2 separate regions of the Homo sapiens genome follow, and region 1 is linked to region 2. Evidence: fine-mapped expression QTL. A gene starts in region 2. The other region holds a variant in brackets. All regions are shown on one strand. Distances are between the middles of the regions. Region 1 overlaps SCPEP1 (serine carboxypeptidase 1). Region 2 holds the start of SCPEP1 (serine carboxypeptidase 1).

Region 1 (5,379 bases), 27 kb before region 2:
CTGCTGTTAACTGTTTCCTCACAGTCTGCAGGAATAAGCTTTGGGTTTGTTATTTTTTTTAATTAATTAATTTATTTATTTATTTTTGGGACAGAGTCTTGCTCTGTTGCCCAGGCTGGAGTGCAGTGGCGCGATCTCGGCTCACTGCAAGCACTGCCTCCCGGGTTCACGCCATTCTCCTGCCTCAGCCTCCCAACTAGCTGGGACTACAGGTGCCCGCCACCACGCCTGGCTAATTTTGTGTGTGTGTGTGTGTAGAGATGGGGTTTCACCGTGTTAGCCAGGATGGTCTCGATCTCCTGACCTCGTGATCTGCCCGCCTTGGCCTCCCGAAGTGCTGGGATTACAGGCTGGAGCCACCGTGCCTGGCTGTTTTTTTAAATCTCAGCCTTTGGCCAGGCTTGGTGACTCATGCCTGTAATCCCAGCACTTTGGGAGCCCAAGGCAGGTGGATTGCTAGAGCCTGGGAGTTCGAGACCAGCCTGGGCCACATAGTGAGACTCCAACTCTACGAAAAAATTTTAAAAATTAGCTGGATGTGATGGTGCTTGCCTGTGGTACTAGCTACTTGGGAGGCTGGGGCAGGAGGATCATTTGAGGCATGATTGTGCCACTGCACTCTAGCCTGGGTCACAGAGTCTCAATAAATAAATAAATAAAATCTCAGCCCTGCAACTACAAGAGGTGATATTTCTTTCAGACAGTCCTAGAAGCTGTTAGATCCCCTATGCAGATTTTTTTTTCTTTTTGAGATGGGGTCTCTGTCACCCAGGCTGGAGTGAGTGGCTTGATCATGGCTCACTGCAACATCAACCTCCCTGGCTCAAGTGATCCTCCTGCCTCAGCCTCCTGAGTAGCTGGGACTACAGGTGTGTGCCACCATGCTCGGCTAATGTTTTTATTTTTTTTGTAGAAATGGGGTCTCCCTATGTTGCCCAGGCTGTTGTTGAACTCCTGGGCTCAAGCATTCCTCCTGCCTCGACCTCCCAAAGTGCTGGGTTTATAGGTGTGAGCCACGGCATCAAACCTCCTTATGTAGATCTTGAGCTATGAATAAAAAGTTAAAAGTCCTGAGCTAATTATTTTGATTTTAAGGAAATGTGGCAATCCTCTGACTAAATAATTACACTTTTATGAATTTATTCTAAGAAAATAAGGAGGTACAAAAAAATCTAACTATCAGGGTGAATCAACAGAGCACTATGTATAATAGCAACAAACTAGAAATTATTATACTTGTCGGAAACAACTGGGAATTTTGTAAATAAACTAGAGTACAACCATAAAGTAGAATGCTCCACAGCCATTAAAAATGTTAGAGAAGAACATTTATTGACATGAAAAGGTGTTTCAGATATACTGATATGTCAAACAAATAGTAAAACAACATAGAGTAATGATTCATTTTGGTAAAAAATATATATGTATATATAGAAAAAAAAATTCTGCAAGGACATATGCTAAATTGGTAACAGTGCTTACCCCTGGGAAGGGGGTATACAGATGTTGATTTACTCTTTGGGTACCTGTATTTCCCAGTTTTTCTATAAATCACATCATTTGCTTCTGTCATAAGAAAAAATAATATCTATTATCATCCTTTATTTTGATCAAAACAAATCAATTTTTTAAAAAATCTTAGGTTTTTTTAAGAAGCAGAAATAATTTCCAAATTGCCTCCAGAGACAATGATTTTATCCTCTGCAGAAGCTGGTCAGAACCTTCTTGATCACAGCCCCAGTTAGATACAGGGAAGAATGGCGCTTCCTACAGCTTCAGCGGCCTCAGCTCAGCTCTGTGCCCCAAGGCCAAACCAGCTCATCTCCAGCCCCATCCATCCTATTCTTGCTGAGTCACCAGTCTCATCATCTTCAGAGCCATGTCCCCTTGGTCAGAAGGAACCTAGAAAAAAACAACATCTGAGTTAGTGCTCCTGGTGCTATTCCTGGGGCTGGGGTCAGAGGCAACATCCTGAAACCTTGCTCCCAAAAGGGAGCCAGCTCTGTGACAGCAACCTGTGCAGACACCTGGGCACATCCCTGAGAGAGGGTCCTTCCTGAAAATGACTCCTGCACTGGATGAAAGCTCTTCTGGGCCCTGACTGGGCTGGGTGGCAGGGACCTGGAGAAGTCAGCATTTAAGACAAGAACCTTCTACTCCATTTGGAGCTGATCTGTTGATTTCTTGGTAAGGGTCATGCTAATGATACTAGACCTAGCCTGTTCAAGGAAGAAGGAAGATTCTAAACATTTTAAAGGCATCTGTCTAGAAGGGATCCCGGATTGAGAATAGAGAAATGGCTGAGAAGGGAGCTCACAGCAGAGAGCCGCAAATAATAAAAACAAACAGGGCCCTTTGGGTGGCATCCGATTTTCGCAGTTATTCAACTTTCTTTTGTTTTCCCTCAGATTTTTAGAATAAGTCCTTTAAAATTTCCTTCCCACACAGCATCAAAAGGGGGAAGGGCAGAGGCCTCAGTTTCTCCCTACACAGAAGGGGTTGGAGTATATGGTCTCCCCGTTATGTAATTCCCTGGCTCCATGATTCTCTATGGCACACCCATCCTTGACTCTTCTGCCAAGAGTCCCCAGGAGGCACAGGCAAGGTGGGTTATCCTAAAATGTCATTTAATCAATGAAAGGGGAAGTGGTTTGGGGACGACTTAACAACAGTCTCCAAGGGCTATT[T/C]TAAGCCTGTCCCCAACTGATCTGTTGTTCTATATGTGACAAACCAACAGGAAATGGGCCTGAACTCTAGTATACAGAGCGCGTGGTTGGCTTGTTCCATGCCTTCCTACCAGCCTCGTCAGGGACTTCTCTCTAGGGCAGGCTGAGCATCCCTCATTGGAAAATCCAAAATGCTCCACAATTCCAGCCTTTTTGAGTGCCACCATGAGGCCACAAGTGGAACATTTCACACCTGCCCCATGGGCGGCTGCATTCAAAATGCAGGCGCACAACACACAGTTTATTTCTGCATCCCCAAGGGGGTTACAGTACAGTAACCTTTTAATCAAAACACAGCATTGTAGGTAGAGACCGAAAGCTGCTGTTGCTTGCTGTTGCTGTTGTCTAGCAGCTGACACAGGTATTCTGGTCATGCTACTGTGCTGCTCAGTTACTCTGAACACACAACTTTTCCACTGTATTAATGGTATGTTGTATTTCTTACTGTGAAGTACTTATGTGTGACTACATGCAAGAAAAAGATTGCTTATCGGCAGCATATAAATTTGGAGTCAGAAATGATATGATGCCTAACAACCACAGATTGGTTGAAGAGCCATGGGTGGCTGAAATAGCCACCCTTTGCTCTCTAATAACTCAGTGCACACAAACTTTGCTTCATGCACAAAATTATTTAAAATATTGTACGAAAGTACCTTCGGTCTATGTGTATAAGGTGTATATGAAACATAAATGAATTCCATTGCCTAGACTTGGGTCCCATCCCCAAGATATCTCATTATGGATATGCAAATATTCCAAAATAAAAAAAAAATTAAAAATCTGAAACATTTCTGGTTCCAAACATCTCAGATAAGGGGTACTCAACCTGTAACAGTGCTTGCTCTAAGACGTTCTAATTTTCTTTCTTTTAGTCAATATTGAAGGTACTCAGATCCTGAGAGCCATAAATAATGCCCTCTCCCTCTGTGCCCTGCTGCCTTGTTTGTTCTCCCTTTAGATTAAGTCTATTTGTTTATTTATTGATTTACTTTTTGAGACAGAGTCTCACTCTGTCACCCAAGCTTTCAGGCTCAATCAATCCTCCCACCTCACTCAGCCTCCAGAGCAGCTGAGACCACAGGCAGGCGCCACCGCGCCCAGTTGATTTTTGTTCTTTTTTGAGACAGAGTCTCACTCTGTTGCCCAGGCTGGAGTGCAGTGGCGCTATCTCGCCAGCTGGATGCAATGGCACTATCTTGGCTCACTGCAACCTCTGCCTCCCAGGTTCAAGCGATTCTCCTGCCTCAGCCTCCTGAGTAGCTGGGATTACAGGTGCCCACCATCATGCCCAGCTAATTTTTGTATTTTTAGTAAAGATAGGGTTTCTCCATGTTAGCCAAGCTGGTCTCATACTCCTGACCTCAGGTGATCCACCTGCCTTCGCCTCCCAAAATGCTGGGATTACAGGTGTCAGCCACCATACCCAGCCTAGATTAAGTGTCTTTTGAGAGTGGGCTGCTTTCTCTGGCTTCTTAAAGGAAGCTACTGTCTCTTCTCCTCACTACTCATTCATTTTCTCCAGTCTTTCCAATCTGGCTTCTGAGCTTGCCACCTCACCAAAATATCTCACCAACGCAGGTGCCAAGGACATCGGTGTAAGCACATCATCACTCACGTTTCAGCCCTTCCCCTGAGTTCTCACTTAGCACTGCGGGCCCCTCCCTGCTTTGGGGATGCCACGCATCCCTGGTCTCCCTTCTCACTTATCTGGCTGCTCCTTTCTCAGTCTCATTTGTAGGCTCTTCTTCTGCCTTCTGTTCTATAGGCAATTCAAACTCAGCTTGTGCAAATTCCCTCCATCGCAAACCACAATGCTGGAGCAGAAACCTGCAAGCCACCCTTCAGTTCTTTTCTACCCCAAATGATTACCAAGTCCTGCCAATTTTCCCTTCTTTACACTTCACCAAATCCATCTACTTTCCTCCTTTCTGGATTTACCTGACAGCCTCATTGATTGGTCTTTGGCCCCAGGCTTGCCCCATGCCCTCTACTGCTAGAATGGTATTTCTTGGACAAATCTGTTAATTTCACTCCTTTGCTTAAAACCCCTGCTTGGTGCCCTACTGTCTGAACTCCTTAGAGTGGTATGAAAATTCCCCCTCTGCAGCCACCTCCCTCCAGTGTCCATTCCAAGTCCTCGCTGTCTGAGGCTCCTGTGGACCTTGTATTCACTGCTCTCCATGCTCCCCACCTCCTCCTCTTTCCTTAAATCACTCCTACGCATCACGTGGGGCACAATCTTCCAGATCTGCATGCCTGGGCAGGGCACCCTTCCCTGGGCCAAGCCAGCTGTTGACAGTCTCCTTGCCTGTCTGTCTCTAGACCACAAGCTCCTTGAGGACAGGGACTGGGCACCACTCACCCTTGTGCTCGCAGTCTCTAGTGCTAATAGCGGAATTTTGTTAGGAAACTCAAAACACTCCCAAGCCCTAAGTATTTCTTTTTTAATTTTTCTTTTTTTTTTTTTTTTTGAGACAGGGTCTCGCTCTGTCACCCAGGCTGGAGTGCAGTGGCATGATCTTGGCTCACTATAGCTTCTAACTTTCAGGCTCAATCAATCTGCCCACCTCACTCAGCCTCCTGAGCAGCTGAGACCACAGGCATGCGCCACCGTGCCCGGTTGATTTTTGTTCTTTTTTGAGACAGAGTC
Region 2 (5,379 bases):
CCACACAGAGGAGACTTGGCTTTGACCTCAGGCCAGGCTGGGAAGCTACTTTACCTGAAGCCACATGACCAGGGGCAGTTCTGAGAAGTTCTTGCAGGAGTTGGTGGCATAATAGAGCCACCAGAACATGTAGGCATCCTTGCGGACCGTCACATAATCCCATACTTCCTTGCCCTCCTCTGTGGGCCAGTCAATGACAGCTCCTGAAACAGAAGTTCAATTTCACTCTCCAGAAGAGTGCCTAATGTACAGGTAAATTCCAAGCCTGGTAGAGACAGCCATGCTAGGCTAGAGATGATTTGTTTTATAGTTTGGTAATTTAGCCACCCCAGTACATTGCAGGAATAAGGAAAAAACCTCGGCTATGAAAAAAGAAACCAAACTTAACAGCGGCATAGGAGGCCAGGGGCTTTCACTTTTTCCTCTACACTTTTCTGTAATGTTTGGATTTTTAACAATAAATATGAAACACTTTTTTTTTTTTTTTTTTTTTTTTGATACGAAGTCTCGCTCTTGTTGCCCAGGCTGGAATGCAATGGCGCAATCTCGGCTCACCGCAACCTCTGCCTTCCGGGTTCAAGCGATTCTCCTGCCTCAGCCTTCCAAGTAGCTAGGATTACAGGCATGCACCACCACGCCTGGCTAATTTTGTATTTTTAGTAGAGATGGGGTTTCTCCATGTTGGTCAGGCTGGTCTCGCACTCCTGACCTCAGGTGATCTGCCCGCCTAGGCCTACCAAAGTGCTGGGATTACAGGAAATACTTTTATAATTCTGTAAAAACAAGAGAGATTTATATTTTGAGTAAAAAAGTAAAAATCTCAGAATGCAATATACTGGTTTTTATATCGTATTTAATACATGAGTAAGACACCAGGCTTGGTGGCTCACTCCTGTAATCCCAACACTTTGGAAGGCCAAGACAGGCTGATAGCTTGTGCATAGGAGTTCAAAACCAGTCTAAGCAACATAGCAACACCCCATCTCTACAAAAAATGCAAAAATTAGCTGGGCATTGTGGCATATGCCTGTGGTCCCAGCTACTCAGGAGACAGAGGTAGGAGAATCGCTTGAGCCCAGTAGGTTGAGGCTGCAGTGAGCTGTGATCACACCAGTGCACTCCAGCCTAGGTGACAGAGGGAGATCCTATCTCAAAAAAACAAAAAACCAACCAACCAAACAAACAAAAAACATGAGTGAAGAGGCATCACAAATTAGTGGGGCTGAGAATATTCAATATACAGTAATGGAGCAACAATTACCTTTTTTGGAGAAAAAAAGAGAAATTTAGGTCCTCTCAACACTATAAACGAAATAAGTTCCATGAGGATCAAGCAATTAAATTTTAAACTTTAAACATTAAAAAAATACAAAAATATAGTTAAATATATTTCTAATGTCTGGATGAGGAAAGAATCTAAGCAAACCCCAGAGACTGTACAAAAGAAACAATGATGGAGGTGAGAACAGAAACTTGTTATATTTCTATACAACAAAATTTCTGTAAATCAAAAATAAAAAGGCAAACAGCAAGGAAAGAGCTACAACAAATATGAAAAAGGGCAATTTTCCTAACTCATGTAGATGATTTTTTTAAACTGAACGATATATATCTGTGTATGTGTGTTTAATATACGTATCCTATAATCCCCTAACTCCAATTTTCCTTACTTAACTTTTCTAGCATCCACAAAATATGTTTTAGAAAAGAGTAGGCTAAATACATTTTCTTTGTCACTTTTTGCTAACGTAACAATTTCCAAGTTATAGCATCTTTTTTTTTTTCCTCCAAAACCACTCTGGGAAAAAAAAAAGTAGAGGGGCTGTTGTTAAAAGATGATGGGGGGGATCCCCTCGGTGACTGGAGTTTTCTGCCTTCTATTTCCTCCCTTCTCAAATTTCAAGCCCCATTGGTCAGTAAAAGAACACTGGTCCCAACAGCTAAAGAGACAGGAGTAGAGAGGAAGACAATGAGACAACGTCTTGTAAATAAGAAAGAGCCAGGGTGGTGGCCTGTGTCTGCAGTCCGGGCTACTTGGGATGCTGAAGTAGGAAGATCACTTGAGTCAGGCAGTTCCAGACCAGCCTGGGCAACATAGTGAGACCCTGACTCAAAACAAAACAACAATGAAGATTAAGAAAACCAGAAAGTGTCCTGAGGAGCAAAACAGATGACTAAAACATTACAGACTTAGCTATAAGGTTCTATATACAAGTAACACACGATTATATTGTCCTTGACAATAACAGATAAGGCTGCGCTCCCTTGAGAATGACAGATAAGGCGCAGGTACCTTTTGACCTAACCCCAGGCACTTCTCCCTTGCCTGGCAGTGACTACTGGTAAAATTGGCAGAGCTACTTATTTTACAAAATCTCCCAGACACTCGCCTAAGGGCCAGATGATCCCCATTTTAGAAAAGGAAAACAAAACTGTTCAACAACTTGCCTAAGGTCACAAGGCAAGCTTGTGGCCAGTTCCAATTCTCAGTGCTTGCTTCAGACTAGGAGAGGTTTTGCTGAAAATCAATTTGCAAGTCATCCTATTAAACACAAATCTGTTTTTTGCCAAAAAAGATCGCTGTGGGGGAAGATGTTATCTTGTTTGTTTTGATCAAGAAAAGAAAGGGCCTTATCTCAATGAAATGTCCCATTCGTGGTAGGATGTAAGGGTACTTTTGACCGCAGATTTCAGCTTAAAATAAAACGACCTTATATCCTCATTTAGCAGCCAATCATGGCCTTTGAATCGGGGAAACCTCATTGACCAGCAGTTTCCCCAAATCATACATTTCTGCACACAGCTTCTATCTAGGCGTAGGAGAGAACGGAAGCACTCAGACCACCCAGAGCCAGAAAAGGACAAAAAAAGCACTTTGAATTTTTTAAGGAAAAAAAAAAAAAAGAGTGAGATTCAAAAGCAATATAATTACACAAGGTAAGAACCGGGGAAAAGAGACATGTTTTCAAAAGCACAAACCCAGTAACAAACTCTCACGCCTGGAGAAAAAAGAGGCATGGCAGCTGGTGCGCCTCTTGCTTGAACCTACCTGCGTTCAGGCCCAGCAGCAGCGGCAGCAGCAGCAACCACCGCGGGACGGGAGAGCGCCGCAGTGCCAGCTCCATGACAAGTACCGCACGGCAGCATCAGCAACAGGCTGGACCCGGCGCCCCATCACGTGACGGAGGCGGACGGGGCGGGTCGGGGGCGGGGCCTGCGGGTCGGGGGCGGGGCCTGAATGGGCATGGGGCGGGGCCTGGGCGGACCCGGCAGCTTGCTGAGACCCGCACGCCCTCTGCCCGGCAAGCCCACCAGGACCCCTGCAAATGCGCAGGGGCCGTTCTGTCCGCCTGGCCAGGTTCTCTGTCATTTTAGGGAGAGTATTTCGGAAAGGAGACATTTGATGCAGATGTTGGATTTAGGTTGTGTGACCGGATCGAAATACTAAAGGGAATAACCACCGCCCTTTCTACCCCTCCCATCTCTTCCTTCCCTCAGCAAAAGAACCGACGTTTTCCAACACTGCTACATCTGCGAAGTCAGATTAAGCCAGCTGGTCGTTGGCAAACAGCGGGGTTTCATTTTCAGATATGTATTTTTTAAATTATTTTTCTTTTAAAGTTATGTATGTTATAAACGTTTTGGAAATATGAACAAAAAAGTTATACATAACTATTGTTGGCATTTTTTCCCATAGTCTTTTACGTCATTTTAAAAAACACTAATAAAGATTTTTATTTTTTTTTTCTTTTTTGATAATTTGTCATTAGTATTACTCTGTGTTACGTTATCTTCACAGCAGTCATTTTAAAGAGAGAATCGAGGGTCTGGGGACGGGAAAGGAAGAAAAAGTGGATGACAGAGCTGTTTTCCTCTGTGTGTGTGTGTGTGTGTGTGTGTGTGTCTGTCTGTCTGTCTGAAGGTCATTTTTACGTTAGAGGGTACTGAATAACTCACCTCACAGCTAGGAGACAAGCTACAGCAGGGGCTGTAGGAGAGGCTACTTCTAAATACTGCTTCAAAAGTACATGTAACAAAAAGCAAAAAACAAATCAAAGTACATGTGGCCACTTCTCCTCTTTCCCTGCTCCTTTCTCCCTCCCCTCGCCCTTGACCCCCATAAATGGAAGTGCTTTTTACTCTGCAGCCATTGTCTGGACAGAGCCTTGACCCCGCCCTGCCTGTGAGGTGCCCCTGCACTGAAAGCTGCGGCAGAGAAAAATATGCCGCCGGGTTCTGTCATGCTTTAAGCATGGGATGGTCCCGAATGCATAAAATCCATAATGCCTGGGCAACATATTGAGACCCCCTCTCTACAAAAAATAACAAAAATTAACTGATGTGGTGACACGCGCCTGCTGTCCAAGCTACTCAGAAGGCTGAGGTGGGAGGATCACTTGAGCCCAGGAGCTCCAGGCTGCAGTGAGCAGGTGTTCCATGCCATATGGGAGATACATAAAAGTACATGCTTAGTTAAAAATAAATAACTATCTAGCAAACTTTTCCTGTCTGAAGCTTCCAAGTTGGTCTGTATCACTAGGGCTTGAAATACACTTACCCTTCCACTGCAGTCAGAATTTTAGGGTTTCAATTTTTTTGCCACAAAAATAACACTACAGCCCAGGGCGCAAGGTGGCTCACACCTGTAATCCCAGCACTTTGGGAGGCCGAGGTGGGCAGATTACTTGAGGTCGGGGGTTTGAGACCAGCCTGGCCAACATAGTGAAACCCCATTTCTACAAAAATACAAAAATTAGCTGGGTGTGGTGGCACTTGCTTGTGGTCTTAACTACTCGGGAGGCTAAGGCATGAGAATCGCTTGAACCCAGGAGGTGGAGGTTGCAGTGAGCCAAGATGGTGCCACTGCACTCCAGCCTGGGTGACAGAGTAAGACCCCATCTCACACACGCACAAAAAAATTGTGCATTTTATAATACGCTAATATGACTTCAAAAGGAAAAAATATAAATAAAATGTCACCTCTAGTTAATGATATTCATATTAAAGTGTTTAGGGGAAGGTGTACCAATGTATACAATTTTCTTTGAAATGTATCCAGATGCTGGCACAGTGACCTATGCCTGTAATCCAGCTCTTTGGGAGACCAAGGTGGGATGATTGATTGAGCCTAGAAGTTTGAGACCAGCCTGGACAATATAGTGAGACCATGTCTCTTAAAAAAAAAAAAAGTATCCAGAATATAAGATGGATTGATGGATAGGATGGAAAGAAGGTTGGATACATGGATAAATACATGATATCAAGTATTACAGTAACATTTTCTTTTTTCATTACAGTTTATAATCACAGGAACAAAATAAACAAAAACCACATGTAGAAACCAGATTAAAGCTTGTTATCCTTACAGGCAGTGGCGAA

The links. PIP is the estimated chance that this variant, and not a neighbour inherited with it, causes the effect.
Region 1: its variant is fine-mapped to the expression of SCPEP1 in whole blood (TOPMed, PIP 0.93).

What each region holds. Positions count from the first base shown.
Region 1 is chr17:57,002,696-57,008,074 of GRCh38, reverse strand. SCPEP1 (serine carboxypeptidase 1) reads right to left here. Exons shown (of 13, transcript NM_021626.3): 13 at 1,307-1,902. The coding sequence ends at 1,840. Among named protein-coding and RNA genes, the nearest start is that of SCPEP1, 27 kb to the right of the region's middle. The variant T/C (reference allele first, on the strand shown) is at 2,688.
Region 2 is chr17:56,975,906-56,981,284 of GRCh38, reverse strand. SCPEP1 (serine carboxypeptidase 1) reads right to left here and starts at 3,154. Exons shown (of 13, transcript NM_021626.3): 1 at 3,050-3,154; 2 at 55-203. The coding sequence starts at 3,125. It overlaps LOC105371836 (a long non-coding RNA gene), which reads right to left. Exons shown (of 4, transcript XR_934875.4): 4 at 5,278-5,379. RefSeq lists a silencer at 3,212-3,271.